Linked DNA regions of Homo sapiens. The protein of the gene in region 1 interacts with the protein of each later gene in a pairwise test. Each region holds a gene or a part of one and is shown on either strand. Other genes may lie near its edges.

Region 1 (7,862 bases):
TGGGATTTTGCTAAGTTTCCCAGGCTGGTCTTGAATGCCTGCACTCAAGTGATCCTCCTGCTTTGGCGTGAGCCACCGTGCCTGGTCTAATTCTTTTTTTTGTTTTGTTTTTCTGTAGAAATGAGTTCTCACTATGTTGCCTAGGCATGCTCTACTTTCTGGGGAGAGGAGTTATCTCCATAAGTTATTTGCAATTTTGCGTGGAAGATTTGCCTCTTCTCCCCACTTTATTTATTCAATCACTTATTTATATCAGTAGGGACTGGTGGATATTTATTTATTTATTTTGAGATGGAGTTTCGCTCTTGTTATCCAGGCTGGAGTGCAATGGCGGGATCTCGGCTCACTGCAACCTCCGCCTTCCGGGTTCAAGTGATTCTCCTGCCTCAGCCTTCTGAGTAGCTGGGATTACAGGTGCCCGCCACCACGCCCTGCTAATTTTGTATTTTTAGTAGAGACGGGGTTTCTCCATGTTGGTCAGGCTGGTCTTGAACTCCCGACCTCAGATGATCCGCCTGCCTTGGTTTCCCAATGTGCTGGGATTACAGGCATGAGCCACTGTGCCTGGCATTTTTTTTTGTTTTGTTTTTCCTGAGACGGAGTTTCGCTTTTGTCGCTCAGGCTGGAGTGCAGTGGCACGATCTCTGCTCACTGCAACTCCCTGCTCCCCGGTTCAGGCGATTCTCCTGCCTCAGCCTCCTGAGTAGCTGAGATTACAGGCACCCTCCACCACGCCCGGCTAATTTTTTGTATTTTTAGTAGAGACAGGGTTTCATCATGTTGGCCAGTCTGGCCTCGAACTCCTGACCTCACATGATCCACCCTCCTTGGCCTCCCAAAGTGCAGGGATTACAGGTGGGAGCCACCGCACCTGGCCTGATATTTATTTTATTATTATTATTTTTTGAGACACAGTCTCACTCTGTTGCCCAGACTGGAGTGCAGTGGCGCAATCTCTGCTTACTGCAACCTCTGCCTCCCAGGTTCAAGCGATTCTCCTGCCTCAGCCCTGTGAGTAGCTGGAATTAACAGGCGACTGCCACCATGCCCGGCTAAGTTTTGTATTTTTAGTAGAGACGGGGTTTCACCATGTTAGCCAGGCTGGTCTCAAACTCCTTGAGATCAGGGTGGTCCGTCTGCCTCGGCCTCCCAAAGTGCTGGGATTACAGACGTGAACCACCGTGCCTGGCGGATATTTATTTTATGTTTTGGGTTATAATCCAGTACCACTTAATTTACAGTATTTTGTTGCTCATACTGTTTCCACTCTGGCCATTAGGAGTCCTTTCAGTTGGTTCAGCACTCCCTGTGACATCATCATCATTGGTGGGGTGTTTCATTTTTAGCACTACCTTACTTTCTGGTACTACAAGTTGCTTCAAGATCATCTTGTGTATTTCTATTTATTTATTTATTTACTGAGACAGAGTCTCGCTCTGTTGCCCAGGCTGGAGTGCAGTGGCGCGATCTCAGCTCCCTGCAACCTCTGCCTCACAGGTTCAAGCGATTCTCCTGCCTCAGCCTCCCGATTAGCTGGGATTACAGGTGCCTGCCACCACGCCTGGCTAATTTTTGTATTTTTAGTAGAGACGGGGTTTTGCCATGTTGGCCAGGCTGGTCTCAAACTCCTGACCTCAGGTGATCCGCGCCCACCTCGGCCTCCCAAAGTGTGGGATTACAGGTGTGAGCCACCGCACCTGGCCTATTTATTTATGTTTTGAAACAGAGTCTTGCTCTGTCGTCCAGGCTGGAGTGCAGTGGGGCAATCTCTGCTCATCACAACCTCAGCCTCCTGGGTTCTAGTGATCCTTGCACCTCAGGGTCCCAAGTAGCTGGGACCACAGGCGTGTGCCATCACACCTGGCTAATTTTTGTATTTTTATTAGATACCCGGTTTTGCCATATTGCCTAGGCTTGTCTTGGACTCCTGACCTCAAGCGATCTGCCTGCCTCGGCCTCCCAAAGTGCTGGGATTACAGGCGTGAGCCACCATGACTGGGCGAATTTTTTATTTTTTATTTTTTTGAGACAGGGTCTCGTTCCAGCTGGAGTGTGATAGCACCATCTCAGTTTACTGCAGCCTCAAGCTCCTGGGCTCAAGCGATCCTCCCACCTCAGCCTCCTGAGATGCTGGGAGTACAGGCGTGCACCATCAGGCCTGGCTAATTTTATACTTTTTGTAGAGACGGGGTTTCACCATGTTGCCCAGACTGGTCTTGAACTCCTGAGTTCAAGTGATCCACCCGCCTCAGCCTCCCAAAGTGCTGGAATTACAGGTGTGAGCCACTGCACCCAGGCTTCTTGTGTATTTTTTTGTCCCAGTTCTAGAGTCAGCTATTTCTCCAAGGAGCACTGGTTACTTTCATTGGAGAATGATATCAGAAACCAAGATCCGGGTGCTAGGTTATGCTTATTGCTACCAGGGTACACAGACATTTTAATGTATGTGTAACATAAAATTTACCTTTTCCACTGTACTTTCATTTATTTATTTATTTATTTTTGAGACGGAGTTTGCTCTGTCGCCCAGGCTGGAGTGCAGTGGCGTGATCTTGGCTCACTGCAACCTCCGCCTCCTGGGTTCAAGTGATTCTCCTGCCTCAGCTTCCTGAGTAGCTGGGATTACAGGCACGCGCTATGACACCTGGCTAATTTTTGTATTTTTAGTAGAGATGGGGTTTCACCATGTTGGCGTGGCTGGTCTTGAACTTCTGGCCTCAAGTAATCTGCCTTCCTTGGTCTCCCAAAGTGCTGAGATTATAGGCGTAAGCCAACGTGCCTGGTTCTTTTTTTTTTTTTTTTTTTTTTTTTTGAGATGCAGTCTCGCTGTGTCGCCTAGGCTGGAGTACCATGGCGCAATCTCGGCTCACTGCAACCTCTGACTCCCAGGTTCAAGCTATTCTCCTGCCTCAGCCTCCCAAGTAGCTGGGATTACAGGTGCCCGCCAGCACACCCAGCTAATTTTTGTATTTTTAGTAGAGATGCGGTTTCACTATGTTGGCCAGGCTGGTCTTGATCTCCTCACCTCGTGATCCTCCCAACTTGGCCTCCCAGTGTGCTGGGATTACAGGCCTTAGCCTCCTCGCCCGGCCAGTCTGTTTTAACTATTAAATAACATTAGGTAGATTCACATTGTTGTGAAACCATCTGTACTATCTATTTCCAGAACTTCTTCATCATCTCAAATTGAACCTCTGTATCTGTTAAACAATACCTCGCCATCTTCCTAACACCCACAGCAGCCCCTGATAACCACTGCTGTACTTTCCAACCATGAATTTGACTATCCTAGGTCCCTCATATAAGTGGAACCATACAGTATTTGTCCTTATGCTTCTTTCACTTAGCATGGTTCATCCATGAACTACGTTCATTCATGATGTTGTAGCAATTAGAATTTCATTTCTTTTTAAGGAGAAATAGTATTCCATTGCATGTACTGTACATACCACGTGTGTGTGTGTGTGTGTGTGTGTGTGTGTGTGTGTGTGTGTGTGTGTGTGTTTAAAAGCATAGGGGTCAGCCAGGTGTGGTGGCTCACGCCTGTAATCCCAGCACTTTGGGAGGCCAAGGCAGGCAGATCACTTGAGATCGGGAGTTCAAGACCAGCCTGACCAACATGGAGAAACCCCATCTCTACTAAAAATACAAAATTAGCCGGGCATGGTGGCACATGCCTGTAATCCCAGCTACTCGGAAGGCTGTCAGGAGAATTGCTTGAACCTGGGAGGCGGAGGTTGCGGTCAGCCGAGATCGTGCCATTGCACTCCAATATGGGCAACAAGAGTGAAACTCTGTCTCAAACAAAACAAAACAAAAACAAACAAACAAACAACAACATAGGGGTCTTGCTCTGTTGCCCAGGCTGACAGGCTGAACTTGAACTCCTGGCCTCAAGCCTCACGACTCAGCCTCCCTAGTAGCTGAAACTGCAGATGGCCTCCACTGACAGTGGCTACCATATATTTTCAAACATAAAATTTTAAGCTATAGATTTTTCTTTTTTTTGAGACGGACTTTCACTCTTGTTGTTCAGGCTGGAGTGCAATGGCACCATCTCAGTTCATCGAAACCTCTGCCTCCCGGGTTCAAGTGATTCTCCTGCCTCAGCCTCCTGAGTGGCTGGGATTACAGGCACATGACACCATGTCCAGCTAATTTTGTATTTTTAGTAGAGAAGGGGTTTCTCCATGTTGCTCAGGCTGGTCTCGAACTCCGAACCTCAGGTGATCCGCCCGCCTCGGCCTCCCGAAGTGCTGGGATTACAGGCGTGAGGCATGCCACCTGGCCTTTTTTTTTTTTTTTTTTTTTATAAAGAAATTGGGGCCGGGCGCGATGGCTCACGCCTGTAATCCCAGCACTTTGGGAGGCCGAGGCGGGCGGATCACTTGAGGTCAGAAGTTCGAGACCAGCCTGGCCAACATGGCAAAACCCTGTCTCTACTAAAAATACAAAAAATAGCCGGGCGTGGTGGCGGGCGCCAGTAATCCCAGCTACGCGGGAGGCTGAGGCAGGAAAATCACTTGAACCCGGGAGGCGGAGGTTGCAGTGAGCCGAGTTCGCACCACTGCACTCCAGCCTGGGCGACAGAGGGAGTCTCCGTCTCAAGAAAAAATAATAAATAAGAATAAATAAATAATAAAGTAAAATGTCCCAGGTAACTGCATATTCGATAGTCTTTCTTTCAACTTAGTTGTTGAATTAGCAATTTTTCTCTTAAAAAAATTTTTTTTTAGCTTATTGTCTTCGGAGATGATAACACCCTCGTTGCGTGGGAGTAAAATTTTAAAGGTAAAACAAACAGGAAACGAGCGTCGGCGGCGAATCTGCTGCTACCAATGTAAAGGTCAGGCCGAGGCCGGCGCGGAGAATCTGCTGTCGCCTGCAGCTGCTCGCCTGTCTCCGTCGGAAGGGAGCCCAAGCTTTGCAGAGGTGAGTGGAAGCGGCTTGGAAGGAGCGGGCCCCACGCCGGAGAGAAGGAAGAGGGAGTGCGGCCCAGACGCTGTGCCCGCGCTTGTGTGGGGCGCCATGTTGAAACCTGGCAAAGGGGACGACATTCTGGGTTGCGTTGCGGGGAGTGGGGACGAGAGCTGGATTGGAAGGATGGCGCCTTACTCCCTGCGGCCCCCAGAGAAGGAGAGGGGCGGGGGAGCGGCCTCGAGGGTTGGCGGCCAGGCTGCAGGCTGGATGGGAAGGATAGGCTTTTCCACAGAAACTTAGGTGTTTGCCTCCGAGGCCCACTGCGCATGCCCTGGAGGGCTCTGTGGGTTCCGCCTTCAGTTTTGCTTTTCACAGGAGGGGCAAAGTCTTTTTTTTTTTTTTTTCCTTTTTGAGACAGTCTTGCTCTGTCGCCCGGGCTGGAGTGCAGTGGTGCGATCTCGGTTCACTGCAACCTCCGCCTCCTGGGTTCAAGCGATTCCACTGCCTCAGCTTCCCGAGTAGCTGAGACTACAGGCGCCCGCCACCACGCCCTGCTAATTTTTTGTATTTTACTGGAGACGGGGTTTCACCATGTTAGCCAGGATGGTCTCGATCTCCTGTCCTCGTGATCCACCCGCCTCGGCCTCCCAAAGTGCTGGGATTACAGCCGTCAGCCACCGTGCCCGGCCAGGAGGGGCAGAGTCTTACCCCGAAGACCCAGGAAGGAGAGGCTTCATTTATTTTTTTGTTTTTCCCCAGAGACAGGGAGTCGCCCAGGCTGGAGAGCGGTGGCGCGATCTCGGCTCACTGCAGCGTCGACATTTCGGGTCAAGCAGTCCTCCCGCCTCAGCCTCTCAAGTATCTGGGACCACAGGCGCGACCCCACGCCCGGAGAATTGATTATTGATTGATTGATTGAAACGGGGTCTCACTTTGTTGCCCAGGCTGGTCTCGAATTTCTGGGCTCAAGCGATCCTCCAGCCTCGGCCTCTCAAAGTGCTGGTATTACAGGCGTGAGCCAGCGCGTGCCTGGCCAAAAATTTTCTAAATTTGTATAATAATTTATAATTGTAATGCATTTTTATAGACACCATATGATCTAATCTTCACAAAAACCTAGTGAAGTGACATTTAGCTACATTTCACAATAAGAATCCTGAAGCTCAAAATTTACTGACCTCAAATAATCCACCCGCCTTGGCCTCCCAAAGTGCTGGGATTACAGGCATGAGCCACCGCGCCCTGGCCCCCACCATTCATTTCGGCTCTCATCCCCTGTTGATGAGTAAAATGAGAATGAGGCCCAGGCGCGGTGGTTCACGCCTGTAATCCCAGCACTTTGGGAGGCTGAGGCAGGCGGGTCATCTGACATCAGGAGTTTGAGACCAGCTTGGCCAACATGGTGAAATCCTGTCTGTACTAAAAATGCAAAAATTAGCTGGGCGTGGTGGTGTGTGTCTGTAATCCCAGCTACTCGGGAGGCTGAGGCAGGAGAATCACTTGAACCTGGGAGGCAGAGGTTGCAGTGAGCCGAGATTGGCCATTGCACTCCAGCCTGGGTGACAGAGTGAGACTTTGTCTCGAGTAAAAAAAGAGAATGTAAAAATCGAAAGAGATTGTTGTAGGAAATCTCAACCTAATGCTGCCGGGGAGGAAGTGCACCTAGAAAGATTAATGAGAAACAATGAAACCAGCTGTTAGTATCTATAGAAGCATGCAGATGAGAGAGAGAACAAAATCCATGCTTATCCGTTTGTAATTCTCCTCCATTTTAATTTGAAGAAGTCTTAAAGTTTTGAACAGGAGCTCTGTGTACAATAATATCAGTTTTATTTGGTAGATCCTTGTGACTCCTGACTTCAAATGATCCGCTCATCTTGGCCTCCTCAAGTGCTAGGATTGCTGGCGTGAGCCACTGCACCGGGCCCCTTGTGACTTTTTAACGTTGAATGGGGAGGGGTTCTTTTCCTTCAGGAGAGGAGGGGTGGGTCTCAGCCTCAGACACCCAGAATACTGGTTTGTGTGTTTTCTTTTTCCTATCTTTATCTCCAAAACCTTATATTTTATGAAAAGCATCAGAGGAAACGATTAAGAGCTTTAGCTCTGGAGTCCACACTGCCCCTGGTTCTAACTCCTCCACTGGGCTACTTCTTAGCTTTAGGATTTGGGGCACAGGCTGCCTTTTTGTGTCTGACCTTTTTCATCTGAAAAGGCAATAATAATATAGTACCTAAGTCCTGGTATTGTTGAGAAGTGAGAGGAGTTAAGAGGTTAGTACAGGCTGGGTTCGCTGGCTCACATGTGTAATCCCAGCACTTTGGGAGGCTGAGGCAGAAGGATAGCTCATGCCCAGGAGTTCAAGATCAGCCTATGCAATATAGTGAGACCCCATCTCTACAAAAAAAAAAAAAAAAAAAAAAGCTGGGTATGGTGGCGCATAGTGAGTAATTCCAGGTACTCAGGAGGCTAGGGTGGGAGAGGCTGCAGTGAGCCATGACTGTGCCACTGTACTCCAGTCTGGGCAACAGAGCAAGACCCTGTCTCAAAAAAAATTCAAGCGATTCTCCTGCCTCAGCCTTCTGTAGCTGGGATTACAGGCATGCACCACCATGCCTGGGTAATTTTGTATTTTCAATAGAGACGGGGTTACTCCATGTTGGTCAGGCTAGTCTCGAACTCCCGACTTCAGGCAATCTGCCCACTTTTGCCTCCCAAAGTGCTGGGATTCAGGCGTGAGCTACTGCGCCTGGCCTTTTTTTTTTTTTTTTTTTTTTTTTTAAAAACAGAGACAGGGTCTCACCATGTTTCCCATGTTGCCCAGGCTAGTCTCGAACTCCTGGGCTCAAGGGATCCTCCCATTTTGGCCTCTCAAAGTGCTGGGATTACAGGCGTGAGCCACCACGCCCAGCCTCTTCTTTCTTTTTTTTTTGAGACGGAGTCTC
Region 2 (7,868 bases), on another chromosome or scaffold:
GAGTACAGTATGAGTGTTGGACACTATTATTATTGCTGTTGTTGTTAACACACTTAACTTGTGTGCCCTCGTTCGGCCAGGAGGGGACAAAGCCAGGAAACGGTCACAAAAGGAGGCCTCGGAGGCTGGTGGGCAGGACGGAGGGGAGGAGAGAGGCACACCGCCCAGCTTTAATGAGGGGTGTGTGTGTACCCTGGGGCTGCAGGACTGCAACCTCCCCCACCACACCTGCGTGCCGAGGTCACTCCGGGTGACCCCGCAGAGCGGCGTTACTAAATGGGGAGGTGCAAAGCTCTTCGGATCACCAGCGAGCGTCTGGGGGAGGGCTGGAGGCCCGCAGCGTCCCCTCTCACTCTCCTCCCGGGGGACCCAGGTGGCCGGCTCTAGGGTAGCAGATGCGCTTGCCTGTCGGCGCACAGCCAGCCCCGGGTCTCCAGTGGAGGAGCTCAGCTCGAGCCGGGCCGGGCACCTGAGGTCGGCCTCACGGGAGCTGCGTGGGCAGGGGGCACAGAGGAGCCTGGAGTCACCAGATCTCAAGGCATCCCAGCTCTGCCTCTCCCTGGCTGCGGCTCTGTGGCCCATGACTCTGCTGCTTCATGCCTCACTGTCCCCATCAGGAAATTGGAAACCATCATTCTACCGACCCAGGGCTTGTTGGGAGGACTCCACAAAGTCTTAAGTGAAAAAGAGAGAGAGACCGAGAGAGCGTGACCAGGGCCTGGCACCAAGTAAGCACCGAGTGTTACTATATTACTGTATCATCATCACTGTATTATTTCATTAAAATTTTTTGAATAACACATACTCACAGGAAAAATTCAAATAATGTAAAAGGCACAGTGGTAAAAAGTTCCCTGAAAGTCATACGGGATGTTGACGTTGATTCCTGACTCATAAAGCAAATAAGGCATTTTTTTTTCTTTTTTTTTTTTTTTTTTTTTTTTTTTGAGACAGAGTCTTACTCTGCCGCCAGGCTGGAGTTCAGTGGTCCATCTTGGCTCACTGCAACCTCTACCTCCCAGGTTCAAGCAATTCTCCTGCCTCAGCCTCCCGAGTAGCTGGGATTACAGGCACCTGCCACCATACCCAGCTAATTTTTGTATTTTTAGTAGAGAGGGGGGTTTCACCTTGTTGGTCAGGCCGGTCTCGAATTCTTGACCTCAGGTGATCCACCTGCCTCGGCCTCCCAAAGTGCTGGGATTATAGGCATGAGCCACCGCGCCCAGCCAAGGCATTTAAAAAAAAATAAATGTGAGAAACTGAAGACAGACTTGTTATTATCTGATTTCGAGAAATTGTTGGGCTGGATACTGTGGCTCACACCTGTATTCTCAGCACTTTGGTAGACCGAGGTAGGAAGATCACTTGAGCCTAGGAGTTTGAGACCAGCCTGGGCAACACAGCAAGACCCTATCTTAAATTTTTTATTTTTTATTTAATTTAATTTTATTTTTTTGAGACAGACTCTCGCTCTGTCGCCCAGGCTGGGGTGCAGTGGCGCCATCTCGGCTCCCTGCAACCTCTGCCTCCCGGGTTCAAGCGATTCTTCTGCCTCAGCCTCTTGAGTAGCTGGGATTACAGACACACGCCACCACGACTGGGTAATTTTTGTATCTGTAGTAGAGATGGGGTTTCACCATGTTGGCCAGGCTGGTCTCGAACTCCCGACCTCAGGCAATTTGCCCGCCTCAGCCTCCCAAAGTGCTGGGATTACAAGCGTGAGCCATCACACCTGGCCTCATCTTCAATTTTGTTAAAAAAGTCATTATGACAATTTTACTGTAGCTGAGCTAGAAATTTTCCTTACTTTTACAGATAGGTACTCTCAAATGTTTGGGCACAATTCATCACAATGCCTGTAGTTTAGTTTATAACTTGTAGCTTTTCATGAAGGAAAATTTCCAGCATAACCAGAAACAGAGGAATAAAATGAGTCCCTTCCCTCTCACTTGTCTCACCACCCACCCACCACCCCCCCATACACACACACACACACACACACACACACACATTTTCTTTTCTTTTGCCAGACTTTTTTGTTTGTTTGTTTTTGAGATAGAGTTTTGCTCTTGTTACCCAGGCTGGAGTGCAATCGTGCCATCTTGGCTCACCGCAACCTCCGCCTCCCGGGTTCAAGTGATTCTCCTGCCTCAACCTCCCAAGTAGCTGGGATTACAAGCATACACCACCATGCCCAGCTAATTTTGTATTTTTAGTAGAGACGGGGTTTCTCCATGTTGTTCAGGCTAGTCTCGAACTCCCGACCTCAGGTGATCCGCCCGCCTCGGCCTCCCAAAGTGCTGGGATTAGAGGCGTGAGTCACCGCGCCCAGCCGGCCAGATGATTTTAAAGCAAACACACCAGGCAGCTCAGCATTTCCACTTCCAAAAGACTTCAATATTTATCATTTACTTGAAACTAGTTTGTATGCCCCCGCCGACAAAGAAATAAAGATCAAGAAAGTATGGCCAAGTGGCCACATCTGTGAAGTTTAGCCAATGGGTGTTCATGACAGCACTTTTTTGTTTGTTTGTTTTTGTTTTGTTGTTATTATTTGTTTGTTTGTTTGTTGTTTGTTTTTGAGACGGAGTCCCGCTCTGTTGCCCAGGCTGGAGTGCAGTGGTGCGATCTCGGCTCACCACAACCTCCGCCTCCCTGGGTTCAAGCGATTCTCCTGCCTCAGCCTGCCCAGTAGCTGGGACTACAGGCACGGACAGCACTTTTTCTACTTTTCTGTAGGTTTGCGACTTTCCCCAATCTAACCTCCGAACAGCAAAGGAAGTTCTACCTCTGCCCCTCCTTGGGTCCCTTCCAGCTCCCCAGAGGCCAGCGCCACAGCCTGTTTCCTGCAGATCCTTCCAGCGCCTACGCGTCGCTGCCGTTGCTGTGTCTTTATTAATAGCAGGGCTGTAGTAGTAGTGGAAACACGAGTGGGGCAGGCAGCAGGCCTCTGAGTCACACAGGCCTGGCCCGGGGCCCGCTCCCCTTCTGACCTTGTGTAACACGATCGTTTCTCGGAACCTCAGTTTCCTGCTCCGTAAACTGGGGATAAATACTGACCCTTTGGGCAGCTGGGAGGATCCAGTGTAAAGCCCCGCACAGGGCTAGGCGCGGAACAGGTGCTGAGAACATGAGAGCACCTCTGTCCCTGGCGCTTCCCACAGCTACTTCAGCTCCTGAGTCCTGCAGGAGGAGGGGCTGGGCCTGGACTCCTGGGTCTGAGGGAGGAGGGGCTGGGGACCTGGGTCTGAGGAAGGAGAGGCTGGGAGTCTGTACTCCTGGGTCTGAGGGAGAAGGGGCTGGGAGCCTGGACTCCTGGGTCTGAGGGAGGAGGGGCTGGGGCCTGGACTCCTGGGTCTGAGGGAGGAGGAGCTGGAGTCTGGACTCCTGGGTCTGAGGGTGGAGAAACTGGGGACCTGGACTCCTGGGTGTGAGGGAGGAGGTGCTGGAGACCTGGACTCCTGGGTCTGAGGGAGGAGGGGCTGGGGCCTGGACTCCTGGGTCTGAGGATGGAGGAACTGGGGACCTGGACTCCTGGGTGTGAGGGAGGAGGGGCTGGAGGCCTGGACTCCTGGGTCTGAGGGAGGAAGGGCTGGGGTCCTGGACTCCTGGGTCTGAGGGAGGAGGGGCTGGGGGCCTAGACTCCTGGATCTGAGGGAGGAGGAGCTGGAGGCCTGGACTCTTGGGTCTGAGGGAGGTGGGGCTTGGGGCCTAGACTCCTGGGTCTGAGGATGGAGGAACTGGGGACCTGGACTCCTGGGTGTGAGGGAGGAGGAGCTGGGGCCAGCACTCCTGGTGTGAAGGAGGAGGGCTTTGGGAACTGTTCCCTGGTCCCTGGACACCAGCGCTCCTGGCCTCTGGGGCAAGACAGAGGTGCTCAGCTCTGGGCCAGTCATCCCAGCTCAGGTGTGTGGAGGGGTCTGTCCCACCCTTTCCTCTGCCCTCAGGCCTGGGCCTTGTTGGGGGTTCACAATATGTTTTGTCCCGTCTGTCCTGGGACTGGAGCCCAGAGTCCAAGCTGGTCTAAGTTTGGAAGGGAGAGGGAGGGGGCAGCGGTCAGAGGGGGTGAGGGAGGGGTGTGGGGGGACAGGATGTCTCTGTCTCTGAGCTGTCACACACACCCCTGTCCCAGGCCCAGAGAAAGGGAGGGACAAAGGCTTTGAGAGAGAGTCAGGAACAAAGAGGAGGAGAGAGACGCAGAGACACTGGGGAGAGCGGACGGAGATGCCCAGAGGGGCCGGGAGAGACGGGAAACAGACAGACAGAGAGAGGGGAGCAGGCAGGGAGCAGAGCGTGGAGACACCCCCAGAGTTGGTGGAGAAAGAGTGGAGACAGTGTGCGGACAGGGGAGAGGGGCCGGCGACCCACAGAGACGGGACAGGGAGGGGGAGTCCCACCCCAGAGACCCAAGTGCGAGACAGAGACAGGGAGGGTGGAGAGAGAGAGACGGGGAGAGAAGGAGACAAAGACGCACAAAGAGAGAGGATAGACGGAGCAAGAGAGAGGCTGACAGAAAGGTGTTCCTGTAGAAGGAAGGAGAGACTGGGGTTGGCTAAAGAGAGGGGAAGAGAGGGTGTGGGGAGTAAGGGCTATCACCTGGGAAGCACAGCAGGGAATACACCCAGAGGGTGGCAGGAGGGCACAGAGAGGCAGAGACACTCCTCCAGCTAGACAGAGCCGGACAGACAAGGGGCGACTGAGGCTGACCTTGCAGACGAGCTTCCATCCCTTGGCTCTGCGCAGCGAGAACCTGTGGGGTGCAGGGGGCTGGTTGCTTTCTGGGGAGCCCTGACGGGGGGGTCCCGCCCAAGGGCCACCCCACATCAGGAAGCCCTGAGATGGAGCGCAGGGCCTCCGAGACCCCTGAGGATGGGGACCCAGAGGTGAGAGACGGGAGCCAGGGGAGGAAGACAGAGAGAGAAAAGAAGGAGAGAGAGGCAGGAGGCAACACGGGGAGAGAGAGGAAGAGAAACAGAAAACAGGGAAACGCAAAGACCTCAGAGACCCAGACCCAGGGAGAGAGGATGACAGAGATCCAAGGACACACAGCGAGACCAAGGCCCCCAGAGAATTGGACTCAGAAACACACAGCGGGATGCACAGGGGAAGAGGACGGTGGAGAGAGAGACCAGGGTGGGCAGGGGGACTGTGTGGGCTGAGGATGCACCCCCACTCGGGGCTGGGGGCTCCTGGCCTGCTCCCACAGACAGGGGCAGGCGGGGCCTCTGTGGCAGTGACCCCTAACCTCTCCAGGACACAAAAACAGGTGGCCCGAGTCCGGGTGAGTCACTGTGACTCATCCTCCTCTCTGGGGACAGTGACCCCTGTCCCCTGCCCCACCCTCCATCCTGGGGCTGCGCCGTGACCTCCTCCCCCACCACTCTCAGTGGACCCCAGACGCGCCCCCTCCTCACCCTGCCCCTCTCCCGTAGGAGGACACAGCCACAGCCCTCCAACGGCTGGTGGAGCTGACGACCAGCAGGGTGACCCCGGTGAGGAGCCTTCGGGACCAGTACCACCTCATCCGGAAGCTGGGCTCCGGCTCCTACGGCCGCGTGCTCCTTGCCCAGCCTCACCAGGGGGGTGAGTTCAGCCACCCAAGGGCAGCCTCCCCAACTGCCCCACAATAAGCATTCTCGGAAGCCACCCAGACAGGGGGCATTCCCAGGAGGAGCTGATGGGGACCCTTCTCAGTGGGGGTACTCTGAAAGTTAAGAGCTCTGGGATCTTCTGAGAAACACAGGCCCCACCCCAGAGAGGGCGAGGGACTGCCTACGGTCCCACAGCAGGACAGGTATGCAACTCAAGTTGGAACCCAAGTCACCACCGTGTCTCTTACTTGATGCCAGGGGAAACTGAGGCCCGGAGAGGGTGAGGCGGCTGTGCAAGCCCACGCCGCAGTCCGAGGCAGAGCAGGGAGGGTCTTCAAAGAAGGTCTCCTCCCACCCACACTTCACAGACAGGGGAGCCCGTGCTGCCCATGAGAAGTGTGAGGCTCAGAGAGTTTACACGGCTTCCCTCAGGCCCCACAGCAGGACTGGAGCCGCCTGAGTGTCCCTCCGACCCATCTCCCTGGCAGGTCCAGCTGTGGCTCTGAAGCTCCTGCGTCGGGATTTGGTCCTGAGAAGCACCTTCCTGAGGGAGTTCTGTGTGGGCCGCTGCGTCTCTGCACACCCAGGCCTGCTGCAGACCCTGGCAGGACCCCTACAGACCCCCCGCTATTTTGCCTTCGCCCAGGAGTACGCGCCCTGTGGGGACCTCAGCGGGATGCTGCAGGAAAGGGTGAGGCCACGAGGGACAAAGGTTGGGAGTGCTTATCCCAGGTCCAACTCTGTCCCAAGCCCCGTCTCTGTCTCCAACTCTGACCCCAAATCAGGGCCCGCCCAATCCATCTCCACCCTGAGCCCCCACATGACCTCCCCCTTTCTAATTCTCAACGAGGTTCCATGCCTGACCTCAACCCTAATCCATCCAATCACCCAAACACAATCGTGGAAAGGCAGGGAGCTGGGGGTGGGATTGAGGATGGACTGGAGTCAATGAAGGGGGTGGGGAGGGAGACAGGGTTGGGATTTTAGTTGACTCTGAGGTTAGGGTGTGGGCATGGGTGGAGTTGGGTGGGTTGAGTTTAGAGTTGATTATAGATTCATCGTGAGTATGGAGAAAAGCATGAATGGGCTGCAGAGAGAAGCAGAGACGGTTGAGGATGTGTATATAGACTGAGTTGGAGATGGGCTATAATGGGGTTTCTTCTAGAAAGGAGACCAGGTCAGGACAGAACCCATGATATTCTAGGGTCTCTCGAGTTTGGAGATTAGGGGTAGGGATAGTTTCAGGAATAGATTTTGGATTTGAGATAAAGTTAGGGATAAATGGAAGGAATAAAAGAAGGAAGGGGATGAGGAAGGTACATGTGGAGAAATGAGTCTCATTGAGAATTAGAAGGATGGAAGGATGGGTGAGTGGACAGATGGGTGGGTGAATAGATGGGTGGAAGGAAGGACTGGTAGATGGATGGGTGGGTGGATGGATGGGTGGGTGGGTGGGTGGATGGATGGATGGATGGATGGATGGATGAAAGGATTGGTGGGTGAGTGGATGGATGGATGGATGAGTGGGTGGGTGGATGGAAGGATCCATGGGTGGATGGATGGGTGGGTGGATGGATGGATGGTGGATGGATGGATGGGTGGGTGGGTGGATGGATGGGTGGGTGGATGGGTGGATGAAAGGATTGGTGGGTGGATGGATGGATGGATGAAAGGTTTGGTAGGTGAGTGGATGGATGGATGAAAGGTTTGGTGGGTGAGTGGATGGATGGATGAGTGGATGGGTGGGTGGGTGGGTGGATGAAAGGATTGGTTGAGTGGACGGGTGGGTGGGTGGATGGAAGGATCCGTGGGTGGATGGATGGATGGGTGGATGGATGGATGGATGGGTGGGTGGATGGATGGGTGGGTGGGTAGATGGAGGGGTGGATGGATGGATGAAAGGATTGGTGGGTGGATGGATGGATGGAAGGAAGGATTGGTGGGTGGATGGACGGATGGATGGATGGATGGATGGATCGATAGAAGGAAGGATTGGTGGGTGGATGGATGGGTGGATGGATGGATGAAAGGTTTTGTGGGTGAGTGAATGGATGGATGAGTGGATGGGTAGGTGGGTGGGTGGATGAAAGGATTGGTTGAGTGGATAGGTGGGTGGGTGGATGGAAGAATTGGTGGATGGATGGGTGGGTGGATGGCTGCATGGACGGATGGATGAAAGGATTGGTGGGCGGATGGATGGATGGACGGAAGGAAGGATTGGTGGATGGATGGATGGATGGATGAAAGGATTGGTGGGCGGATGGGTGGATGGATGGA
Region 3 (3,911 bases), on another chromosome or scaffold:
ACCAGCTTCAAACCTCCAAGCCGGGCTTGGTGGCCCACACCTGTAATCCCAGCACTTTGGGAGGCCGAGGTGGGTGGATCACGAGGTCAGGAGATCGAGACCATCCTGGTTAACATGGTGAAACCCCGTCTCTATTAAAAATACAAAAAACTTAGCGGGGCGTGGTGGCGGGCGCCTGTAGTCCCATCTACTCGGGAGGCTGAGGCAGGAGAATGGCGTGAACCCGGGAGGCGGAGCTTGCAGTGAGCTGAGATCACGCCACTGCACTCCAGCCTGGGCGACAGAGTGAGACTCCGTCTCAAAAATAAAAATAAAAATTTAAAAAACCCTCCAAGTATGGTGCAGCCGCCTGAGGGGACGGAGCCCAGCCTGGGTGGCCCTGCCTCAGCACACACCAGGACCTGGGAGGGGTTAAGCCTGGGAGGGGCAAGCAGGCCCCAGTCCCCCTCCCCTGGTTAATCACTGCAAGGCCTTGGATGTTTCAGGAACTTTCCAGAAGCTCAGTTCGGGGCCAGAGCACAAGCAGCCCGTGGGGGAGGGGTGCAGGACCCAAGAGGCGCGTTCCTCACGCTGTGCCCGGCAAACTGTGTGTCCACATGGTTTCCCTGCGGCCCAGTCAGCCCAACGCAGAAAGAGAAATCCCGGCCAGGCTCGGCAAAACAGGTCAGGCGAGAAGGCGGGGCAGAGAGTGGTGGAGGCCAAGAGCGTTTTTACACACCAGTTACTGGGTTGACCTCAGATTAGCATCAGGTAGAAGAATCCGGGGTCACAGGGAGTCACGCCTGGGGCAGCCGCCTTGACACATCCAGCTCCGTGCCTCTGACCTAGGACTGGCTGGGCTGGGGCTGTCCGCTGCCCTGGGGTCCTGGGCTCATGGCCAGTTCCCTGCCACCATCACTGAGGAGGGCTCCGCAGGAAAAGGACCAGTGAAGAAACCAGAGCCTGTAAAGTGGATATTCTGAGCTAGGGGCCGGCCTGCCCTGGGGAGGGGGCCAGCTCACCCTCCCTGCCCCTCCCTGCCCCTCCCTGCCCCGGGGACTGTGACCCACTCACACCTCCCTGCTTCGCCCCGGGATACAGCCAGGGTCCTCCCAGCAGGGCCAGCTCAGGCCTCCCAGGCAAAGGGGCAGGCCCTTCACCCCCCTCCCTCAGCTCACTTTTTCTGAAAATCCCCACAGGCTTTGTCTGAGGAGGATCAAGCCGGGCAAAGCCCCCAGAATCCCTGAGCATTACAGAGGGACAACCAAGGCCTCTGGGTTTGAGGAGATGCCTCAGGGTCACAGTGGAGCACTAGGGCCTGGTCAGAGGACCAGCTTCCCCGCAGGAAGCCCTTTCCACGGGATACCCCACCCTCTGCCAGCCAGTGTGGGGGGTGGGGGGAGGGAGTGGGGATGGGGGCGTTGGCCGGGACCAGGAGGTCAGGCAGGCTTATTGTTGAGAGATAAAGGGTGGTAGCCTTTGTGTGAAGAGGAGGAATTCCTCTGGGGGTTGGAAACAAAGGGAGCAGGCAGCGTCCAGGGCCCCCCAGGACCCCAGCAGGGGGCCAGGGACTGTGTGACCCCAACGGGGCTGCAGGAAAAGGAAGACTGGTTCCGGGTGTCTTGAGACCCCAAGAGTGGATCGGAGTGGAAGAAGCTGAGATGGGAAGAGGGGCCCAGGGCCAGGGCTGGGAGTGTGTGGCTGCCCCCATGGGCACTGCGCAGCCCAGCTGAGAGTGCGTCATTGCCGGTGTCCCCAAAGCACAGACGCTTCCCAGTCACCCAGGCTGCACGCAGACCACACAGGCTGGGCTCCAGCAGGAGGCGTTGGCCGCCCGCTGACCTGCCTGGGTCAGCCTGTCCAGACTGCCCACTGGGCCACATTCAGCCACGTGCTGGAGTCCTCTAGACCTCACCCCAGCCACAGTGTGGCCACGCAGTGGACGCTGAGCTCACATCTTACTGTGGGGTTTTTTTTGTTTTTTTTTTTTTTGAGATAGAGTTTGCCCTTGTCCGCCCAGGCTGGAGTGCAGTGGCGCAATCTCGGCTCACTGCAACCTCTGCCTCCCGGGTTCAAGCGACTCCGCTGCCTCAGCCTCCTAAGTAGCTGGGATTACAGGTGCCCGCCACCGTGCCCGGCTAATTTTTTGTATTTTTAGTAGAGACGGCGTTTCACCATTGTTGGCCAGGCTAGTCTTGAACTCCTGACATGAGGTGATCCACCCACCTCGGCCTCCCAAAGTGCTGGGATTACAGACGTGAGCCACCAAGCCCAGCCCTTGCATGGATTTTTAGTAACATTTTGCTGTTGTTTTACCAAAAAAAACCCCCACATTCTTAATTGAAAAAATGAAAAATAGAGAAAAACTGGCCAGATAAAGAAGATCACCTACAACACCCCTCTGCGAAGATGGTTTTAGCCGATGTTTAGGAAGGGCTATCTGGCATTTAGGCCCCAGCCTCTGTGTGTAGCGCACTCCTGGGCCCTTGGCCTGTGCCTGGCCACGTGGTGCCCACCAGCACGGCCTTTCCTTTGGCCTCAAAAGCCTGGCACTGCTGGCCCATCGGGGAGGCGGGGGCAGGCAATGTGTCTCAGATGGTAGGGACACCCGGGGCAGCCTGGGGGGAGGAGCTTTGAGTCAACCATTTACCCCAGCACCCCTGCCCCCTCCTGGGACCCATTACCACACAGCACCCCTGCCCCCTCCTGGGACCCATTACGAAATGGTCACAACAGGACCATTTTCAGAGCCACATGTCCAGGTGCCCAGTGGAGGGGCAGGCCCAGTCCCTGCCAAGCAGGACCCACTGAGCAAGGCGAGGCCACAGCTCTCTGGTCACTCCAGGATCCTTTGGCCTTCACGGACTCCTGGAGGAAAGCCAGGCCAAGGGTCACAGGGCCCCCGCTGGCCGGGAACACGGAAGTGCTGCACCTGTGCAGTGCCTGTGAGCACAGCCTCCTGCTCCCCCTGCCATCCTGATGCATGCTGTTTTTTCCTCTTTACCTGACAGAGCTCCCAGCTCCTCCAGCAGCCGACAGGAGGCCCGTCAAGATGCAGGCAGGCATTGCCACCCCAGGGATGAAGACAGCAGCCCAGGCAAAGGCCAAGACCACAGGAGCCTCCCGGTCTCATCCTGCAAAAGCTAAAGGCTGCCAGAGGCCCCCCAAGATCCGTAACTACAACATTATGGACTGACTTCCTCCCCCCACCCCGCCCCACTAAGGGGTGCTCGGGGCCTCCGCATGGTGCCTGTGCTTTCACCTACGTGTTGTGGGGGGGTGTGGGCACAGCGTGCAGGGTGGAGGCAGGGAGCTGCAGGGCAGGCTCCCAAATGCTGCTGAGGCGACCCTGCTGACTGAAGGCCTCCCTGAGCACAGGGCCCATTAAAACCAGGTTCCTCCCTGGGGCGTCTGCTTGGCCTTAGCGTTGTTTATCTGTCCTACTTGGGAAATGCAGTATCAAGTGCCTGTGCCAGAGCCTGGCCTGCCCGTGTCACCACCCACAGCCATCTGCACACCAGTGGTGTTGGGGACAGTGTGGCCTTCCTCAGAGCCTGGTAGCAGGTAGGGGGCAGATCAGAAAGCCCACCCACAAAGCAGGCGTCTCCTGAGAGTACCATGGGAGGGGCCCTCCCAGAAGGAGTGAGAGCCTTGGATCCCAGTGAACCGGGCCAAGGTGACCCCTGGAAGCCAGGTGGGCACCTGGGCCTCATGCAGGTTGGGGTGTGCATGTCAGGTGCTGGCAGGGTGGGGGCCAACCGGGGACAGCGGTCACTGCTGGGCCTTCCACGTCCACCCCCACGAAGGATAACAGCAAAATGTCCCTGCCACCTGAGTGCCCGGGGCCAGGTACCTGCAAGGATGAGAAACGCACACGTAAACTGACGCCCGTCCGCCCGGAACACACTGCACTACCCCGCCAAAAAGCACTT
Region 4 (7,000 bases), on another chromosome or scaffold:
AGAGTTCTGAGCAAGAACCTAAAGTAAACAAATTTAATTCTTGAGAAAACAGGAACTAATAACTGATAGTAAAAAAAAAAAAAAAAAAAAAAAAAAGAAAAAAGAAAAAGAAAATCTCGGCCTGGTGCAGTGGCTCACGCCTGTAATCCCAGGACTTTGGGAGGCCGTGGAAGGTGGATCACCTGAGGTCAGGAGTTCGAGACCAGCCTGGCCAACATGGTGAAACCCCATCTCTACTAAAAATAAAAAAAAACCTGGCCGGGTGTGGTGGCAGGTGCCTGTAATCCCAGCTACTCGAGAGGCTGAGGCTGCAGTGAGCTGAGATCGCACCATTACACTCCAGCCTGGGAAACAAGAACAAAACTGTCTCAAAAAAAAAAAAAAAAAAAAACTCATTGCATAAAGACAGAACATTTATGTTCCCTTCAGAGAATACCAGACACAAGTTACTGATCAACTCTCTCAACTACCCCAAACCCAGCAGCAATACACCAGTCATAAATTATATATCAAAACTGGTATATAATAGAAAACAATGATATCAGTTTAAAACAAAAGCAAAAAGCAAGTTTGTACTCAAGTATAACCCCTAATACTGCAAATATTAAACTACAGGTTATCTCTTGCCATCTGCAATGTCAGCTATTCAGGCTTCCCAGAGAAACCAAATATATCTGGATGATGAGGAATACCTGTTCTAGAGTCAGAAAGAAAACTGATCAAACTTGCTTATCCAAAATCCACTTTATGAATAAATCCTACATTATCAGAAAGGTTTGATCAGCTGAATCTTTTGGAAGATTGACTGTTAAAAGCATGCACACCTTGGGAATAATGAGCAATGCATCAGCAAATGCTTGGACTCCAAGCTGTGCCCTGCCCTTTACACTGGGCTTATGTTTAATCAGGGCTTCTGCCATTGCCACTTCCACGGCACCAGCACCTGGAACCACACAGCCTGTTGGATGGGGGAAAAGGAAAAATGCTAAGAAAACTGCAGAACTAATTATGAATAACAAAATATACATATGAAAGCCATTAATTTCTTACAAATTTACTATGACAAAATACAAGTGACTAACATACCAAATAGGAGAATGGTTCAACCAGAATGGCTTCACTAGCCACTGGCAGCTTTCAACAGATCAGTATTAGTTCATTTATTTGTATTCACCTTTAATAATGATATGCTATGAAAAACCTTAGCATACCATCAGTCATTCTAAAGGGAAGACTGCTTTTGCATGGTGTCTGGCTGTGTAAACTACTGATAAAAACACAGTATTCGGCCATGCCTTTCAGACCAGCAAAACAATATAAAAGAATTGAAATACAGTGAGGATCTTACCATCATCAATAGCATTTTTGACAGCCCTCAAGCCGTCCCTCACTGCATCTTTGATCTGAGTGAGTGTGTGCTTATTTGGTCCTTTGATCAATAATGTGACAGAACGAGGGTTGTTACATTTCTCAATAAAGGTAAACTTCTCTTCTCCCTATGTGTAGAAAAAATATGATTTTCAAAAACAGGATTTGTGCAGAGTGAAGAGAGAAGAGGGACTTACAGAGAATGACAAGTAGCATATTAATAAGGAACAAACTTGATCACATTAAAGCAAATTATCTCCTTTTGAAAAATCACATAAAAGAAATGTGATTTTCCCCATCAATGGCTTCCCATTACTACACATAAACCTTCAAAATGTATATAAACAAAAATCTGATCCTGAATTTCAATTAATTTTTCTGCTAAAGACTTCATGAACCAGGCACGGTGGCTCATGCCTGTAATCTCAGCACTTTGGGAGGCTGAGGGTGAAGGACAGCCTGAGCCCGGGAGTTTAAGACCAGCCTGGGCAACACAATTATGAACCTGTTTCTACAAAAATTACCAAGAAAAAAAAAAATTAGCCAGTCATGGTAGCACACACGTCTGTGGTCCCACCTGCTCAGAAGCCTGAGGCGGGAGGATCACTTGAACCCAGGAAGATGAGGCTGTAGTGAACTGTGATCACACCACTGCACTCCAGCCCGGGCAGGAGTGAGACCCCACCTCAAACAAACAAACAAAAATAATTCACGAGCTAAAAGGTTCTATTACCTTTAAGAAAAAAATACACTTACCAATGTATACTCATATACAAGTCCTGCATGTCCCAAGCAGTCAGGACTTAGGTCGTCAAAAGAATTCAGGGCTACCCCACCACAAGCAAGAGTCAGCCTGAAATAGCATTTTAAGGGAGATGGATAAGCAACGTTACCAGTGAATTTCAAAGATAAGACCAGTAATTTTTAGGAAGGAATTTTTCAGAATTACACACAAAATTAAATTTTAAAATGTACTTTAAGCCTTTCCATTTGCCATCAACCAGCTAAAAACTAGTCTTTTCTCTTAACCCTCCATTTAAACCACTCTCCCCAAGTTAGCAAATGAAATCTAAAAGGTGGACAAGAGCTCTTTATTAGCCAGGCATGGTGGCTCACACCTGTAATCCCAACACTTTGGGAGGTTGAGGTGGGTGGATCACTTGAGGCCAGGAGTTTGAGACCAGCCTAGCTAACATGGCAAAACCCCATCTCTACTAAAAAAACACAAAGCAATTCAGTGGGCATGGTGGCAGACACCCGTAATCCCAACTACTCGGGAGGCTGAGAATCCTATGAACCCAGGAAGTGGTAGTCGCAATGAACCAAGATCATGCCACTGCACGAAAGAGCAAGACTGTCTCAAAAAATAATAATAAAAAATTTTTAAAAAAAGCTTTTTATTGTGGGGAGCTCTTTGGAAAAAAGTATATTGAATTCAGAAACAAAAAGTAAAATAATGTTTACAAGGGGCAAGGGGGAGGGAGAAATGGGGAGTAACTATTTAATGGGTATACAGTTTCAGTTTGTGATGATGAAAAAAGTCCTAGAGATGGACAGTGCTGACGGGGTGCACAATGTGAATATAGTTAATGCCAATTAACTATACAGTTGAAAAACCCAAAAATAAAGTATAAGGAAAAAGAAATAATCCCAATTCACTTGCAAAATGAGTAAAAGTCAAATTACTCGGATACCTCTCCATATTTCTCCTTTTAGCTCTGCGCAGAGCAACTATGCCTTCTTTTGAAAGAGCATCTAAGGAAAAGGGGTCAATTCCCTGTAACAAAAATAAAAATTAATTTCAACATCTTTCACCTTAAAAGTAAAAAGGATGATACGTACTATTTAGTTTATACATTGAGTTTTCATTCTCACCTTTTGATTAATAACAACAAATCCTTTATCTGAATCGCCACAGACTTTCCTTTTCAGTTCTATTATTTTTTTAACCCTATCTTCAATGAATTTTCTTTCAGCTTTCACGAGTTTTTCTCTCTCTTCTGCACTCTTGTAAAAAAAGCCAGAATTCACTTCTCTATTAAGAAAAAAAAAAGTTACAGAAAGCAGGGAAACATTAAGAAAGCAGCTTCTGAAACTGGATTAGTCCTAAGATTTAACAGTTCACTGAGCTCCAATCCTGCCCCTTATGCATCTTCAGAGACTGTTTCCTATAGCTCCCCCAAACCAATTTGAGCATTATTGTCCTTACAGTGGGAAACAAAGTTTCACAAAAAAGTAACTCGCCTAAAATACGAAGCTTCTCCATTTCACTGTTAAGGGGCTATAAACTTACGTTTTCTCATACTCTAATGACACGTTACAAGTGAGGATGTATGCATCCTCCACCCTTTTCTTCATATCAGGATGCCGTGCTCCGTGGTCCAAAACAAGCCCTCTGATTAAGCTGTTTAAACACACACAAAATTATGGTTATTGATTTTCAGATGGGTATTTAATATATTAAACACTGAAATGAGAAGGTATTGATATTTCACGCAGTCACATTTTTCTTTTTTGAGATGAAGTCTCGCTCTGTTGCCCAGGATGGAGTGTAGTGGTGCCATCTTGGCTCACCGCAAGCTCCACCTCCTGGGTTCACACCATTCTCCTACCTCAGCCTCTCAAGCAGCTGGGACTACAGGCACCCACAACCATGCCCAGCTAATTCTTTTGTATTTTTAGTAGAGACGGGGTTTCACCGTGTTAGCCAGGATGGTTTCGATCTCCTGATCTCGTGATCCGCCCGCCTTGGCCTCCCAAAGTGCTGGGATTACAGGCATGAGCCACTGCGCCCGGCCTATTTCTTAAATTACCTGAAGATCCTACGCTGTACAGAAAAGTCTGCAGAGATGGTCTCACTGGTAGGCTGTCAAACTGTGATGACGTCCTTTAAAAACATGTTTTCTACCAAGCACCTGTAATCCCAGCACTTACGGAGGCAGAAGTGAGAGGACACCTTAATCCCAGGAATTTAAAACCAGCCTGGGCAACATAGGGAGACTCCATTCTCCACACAGACACACACACACACACACCCCAAAGGGAAAACAAACATGTTTTCTAACTAACTCTTTGAAAAAAATATTTTTTTAAATTCCTCTACTACTTCTCATTATGCTTTGTACCTAGCAATTCAATAAATGCCAAATGACTGATGTTGTTCACTTTTCAGAATCATTCTAACCATAAACATAACATTCACCTTATTTCAGGAGAAAATATTACTAAAAACAATATTCTCCTAGCAGTTTATCCAACTTATATCTTCAGGTAAATATATAACATTTTATATCCAAAGATATTTTTAAAATTGCCATCTCACGCCTGTAATCCCAGCACTTTGGGAGGCCGAGGTGGGCGGATCACGAGGTCAGGAGATCGAGATCATCCTGGTTAACATGGTGAAACCCCGTCTCTACTAAAAATACAAAAATTATCCGGGCATGGTGGCGGGCGCCTGTAGTCCCAGCTACTCGGGAGGCTGAGGCAGGAGAATGGTGTGAACCCGGGAGGCAGAGCTTGCAGTGAGCCGAGATCATGCCACTGTACACTCCAGGCTGGGCGACAGAGCAAGACTCCATCTCAAAAAAAAAAAAAGCCAACTATCTATATTGTACAAAGCACCCCTAAATTTCTAAACACAGTTTATTTTTTGTTTTTGTTTTTTTTTTAATGGGACGGGGTTTCGCTCTTGTCACCCAGGCTGGAGTGCAATGGTGTGGTCTCAGCTCACTGCAACCTCCGCCTCCCAGGTTCAAGCTATTCTGCTGCCTCAGCCTCCCGAGTAGCTGGGATTACAGTCATGCCCGGCACGCCTGGTTAATTTTTGTAATTTTAATAGAGACGGGGTTTCCCCATGTTGGCCAGGCTGGTCTGGAACTCCTGACCTGAGGTGATTTGCCCACCACAGCCTCCCAAAGTGCTGGGATTACAGGTGTGAGCCTCCATGCCCATTAGTATTTCACAGTCTTCTACCACCTACCTTGTATCAGTTTCAGATTTATGTTTCATCTCCATGATCTCAATCATGAAGAGATCAATAGGTTCATCTTGCTTTTTAATGGCCAAAATGGAGTCCACTACAGCCTGCAATTGGAGGAGCATAACCGTTAAGTAAATTCAATTTGCAGCAGAAACATGTTGCTTTTCAGAAGGCTAAAGTAGGCAGTTTCATTTTACAATTCTACACTGATTTAAGTCTTTTTCTATCAGCAAATAGAATACATTATATGTAAAAGGCAACAGCTGAAGTCATTTACATTTCTGAAATCTCCATCTATAATTCCCAAACATTAACATTAATTAACATTAACATTCCTCGTTTTATTAAAAATACTGGTAACTGGAAGCTTTCTAATAAAAAAATCTCCACTTTATAAACCTTTTAATGAAAGCTTCAATTTTACTTTTATAACCTGGTTAGGTATACTATTATTTTAATTTCCTCATTTTTAGAGACACAGATTAGGTATCATTGCCACAAAAATGAACCTACACAGCACCTTGTAATTGAAATTGGTAATCATATTCATGTTTCTACTATCAGAGATTTTCTATATAGGTATACTATACCAGACATAGACAAAATTTAATACATACCTCTGTTAAGACATCTGCAAGTTCAGCATGAACTTTAGTACGAAGAGATGTTCTGGCCACATCTATAAGTGTTTCCCTGTCCATCTCTCTGCTTACTTTGACTTCTTCCAAAAACTGAAGGGCCTTTTCCTTTGCAGCTTCAAATCCTTCAGTGATTATTCTAGGATGAAGGCCCTAAAATAAACACACATTAACACTTGCATCTTCAATTAGGTGCAACCATAGTTCATGATAAAGTTCAGGTAATTATTGAAGGAGTGTTCTGGATCATCATACCTTTGAACACGAGGTAATATAATGTGCTGGCTTTCTGAATACATTTAAAAGGACAAATATTCCTTTCAATGCAGAGCAGATGAACAGGTAATGAATGCTCTAGCACAGGGTCAAAGCCAAGGGAACTATAAAGCACACTTGGGTGTTCACTGTGCAAACCACTCTGAATCATTTCAAAACCAACACTGTGTCCCAACAACTCACAGATGGTAGCATTATCCTATCTTTATTTTCTTTCATTTTTTTTGAGATGGAGTTTCGCACTTGTTACCCAGGCTGGAGTACAATGGCACAATCTCGACTCACCACAACCTCCACCTCCTGGGTTCAAGCAATTCTCCTGCCTCAGCTTCCCAAGTAGCTGGGATTACAGGCATGCACCACCACGCCTGGCTAATTTTTGTATTTTTAGTAGACACGGGGTTTCTCCATGTTGGTCAGACTGGTCTCGAACTCCCAACCTCAGGTGATCCGCCCACCTCGGCCTCTCAAAGTGCTGGGATTATGGGCGTGAGCCACTGCGCCTGGACTATTCTATCCTTTCTATAGGTAATCTCAAACTAACTCACATCATTTACTAATAAAAATAAAGACTGTTCTCTTTCTCCAGGAAATTCTGACAATACATTCATATTCACTGAGGTTTGCTTTAACCTTGGAACTAGTCAGGGCTAAAAAAGTGGAATTTATCCAAATATAAGCTTTTGGTTGCCTTTTTCCTAACAAATATGCCTAGTCCTAAACATTCCATTTTTAG

The links.
Region 2: the proteins of SNRNP35 (region 1) and SBK3 interact in binary tests that used the Homo sapiens proteins (3 or more experiments, as listed by UniProt).
Region 3: the proteins of SNRNP35 (region 1) and CCDC57 interact in binary tests that used the Homo sapiens proteins (3 or more experiments, as listed by UniProt).
Region 4: the proteins of SNRNP35 (region 1) and CCT6A interact in binary tests that used the Homo sapiens proteins (3 or more experiments, as listed by UniProt).

Annotation. Positions count from the first base shown.
Region 1 is NC_000012.12:123,453,285-123,461,146, forward strand, and holds the start of SNRNP35 (U11/U12 small nuclear ribonucleoprotein 35 kDa protein), read left to right. Parts: upstream 1-4,854; 5' UTR 4,855-4,932; intron 4,933-6,419; exon of another isoform or gene 6,420-6,604; coding exon of another isoform or gene 6,605-6,616; intron 6,617-7,862.
Region 2 is NC_000019.10:55,542,514-55,550,381, reverse strand, and holds the start of SBK3 (uncharacterized serine/threonine-protein kinase SBK3), read left to right. Parts: upstream 1-4,838; coding exon 4,839-4,883; intron 4,884-5,145; exon of another isoform or gene 5,146-5,161; coding exon of another isoform or gene 5,162-5,281; intron 5,282-5,432; coding exon 5,433-5,583; intron 5,584-6,023; exon of another isoform or gene 6,024-6,079; coding exon 6,080-6,282; intron 6,283-7,868.
Region 3 is NC_000017.11:82,100,946-82,104,856, reverse strand, and holds the end of CCDC57 (coiled-coil domain-containing protein 57), read left to right. Parts: intron 1-2,990; coding exon 2,991-3,175; 3' UTR 3,176-3,387; downstream 3,388-3,911. UniProt on the Homo sapiens protein: Pleiotropic regulator of centriole duplication, mitosis, and ciliogenesis. Critical interface between centrosome and microtubule-mediated cellular processes. Centriole duplication protein required for recruitment of CEP63, CEP152, and PLK4 to the centrosome.
Region 4 is NC_000007.14:56,054,765-56,061,764, reverse strand, and holds part of CCT6A (T-complex protein 1 subunit zeta), read right to left. Parts: intron 6,401-7,000; exon of another isoform or gene 6,263-6,400; intron 6,142-6,262; coding exon 5,968-6,141; intron 5,455-5,967; coding exon 5,351-5,454; intron 3,773-5,350; coding exon 3,662-3,772; intron 3,404-3,661; coding exon 3,244-3,403; intron 3,146-3,243; coding exon 3,063-3,145; intron 2,222-3,062; coding exon 2,125-2,221; intron 1,497-2,124; coding exon 1,349-1,496; intron 1,296-1,348; exon of another isoform or gene 1,163-1,295; intron 959-1,162; coding exon 825-958; intron 19-824; coding exon 1-18. UniProt on the Homo sapiens protein: Component of the chaperonin-containing T-complex (TRiC), a molecular chaperone complex that assists the folding of actin, tubulin and other proteins upon ATP hydrolysis.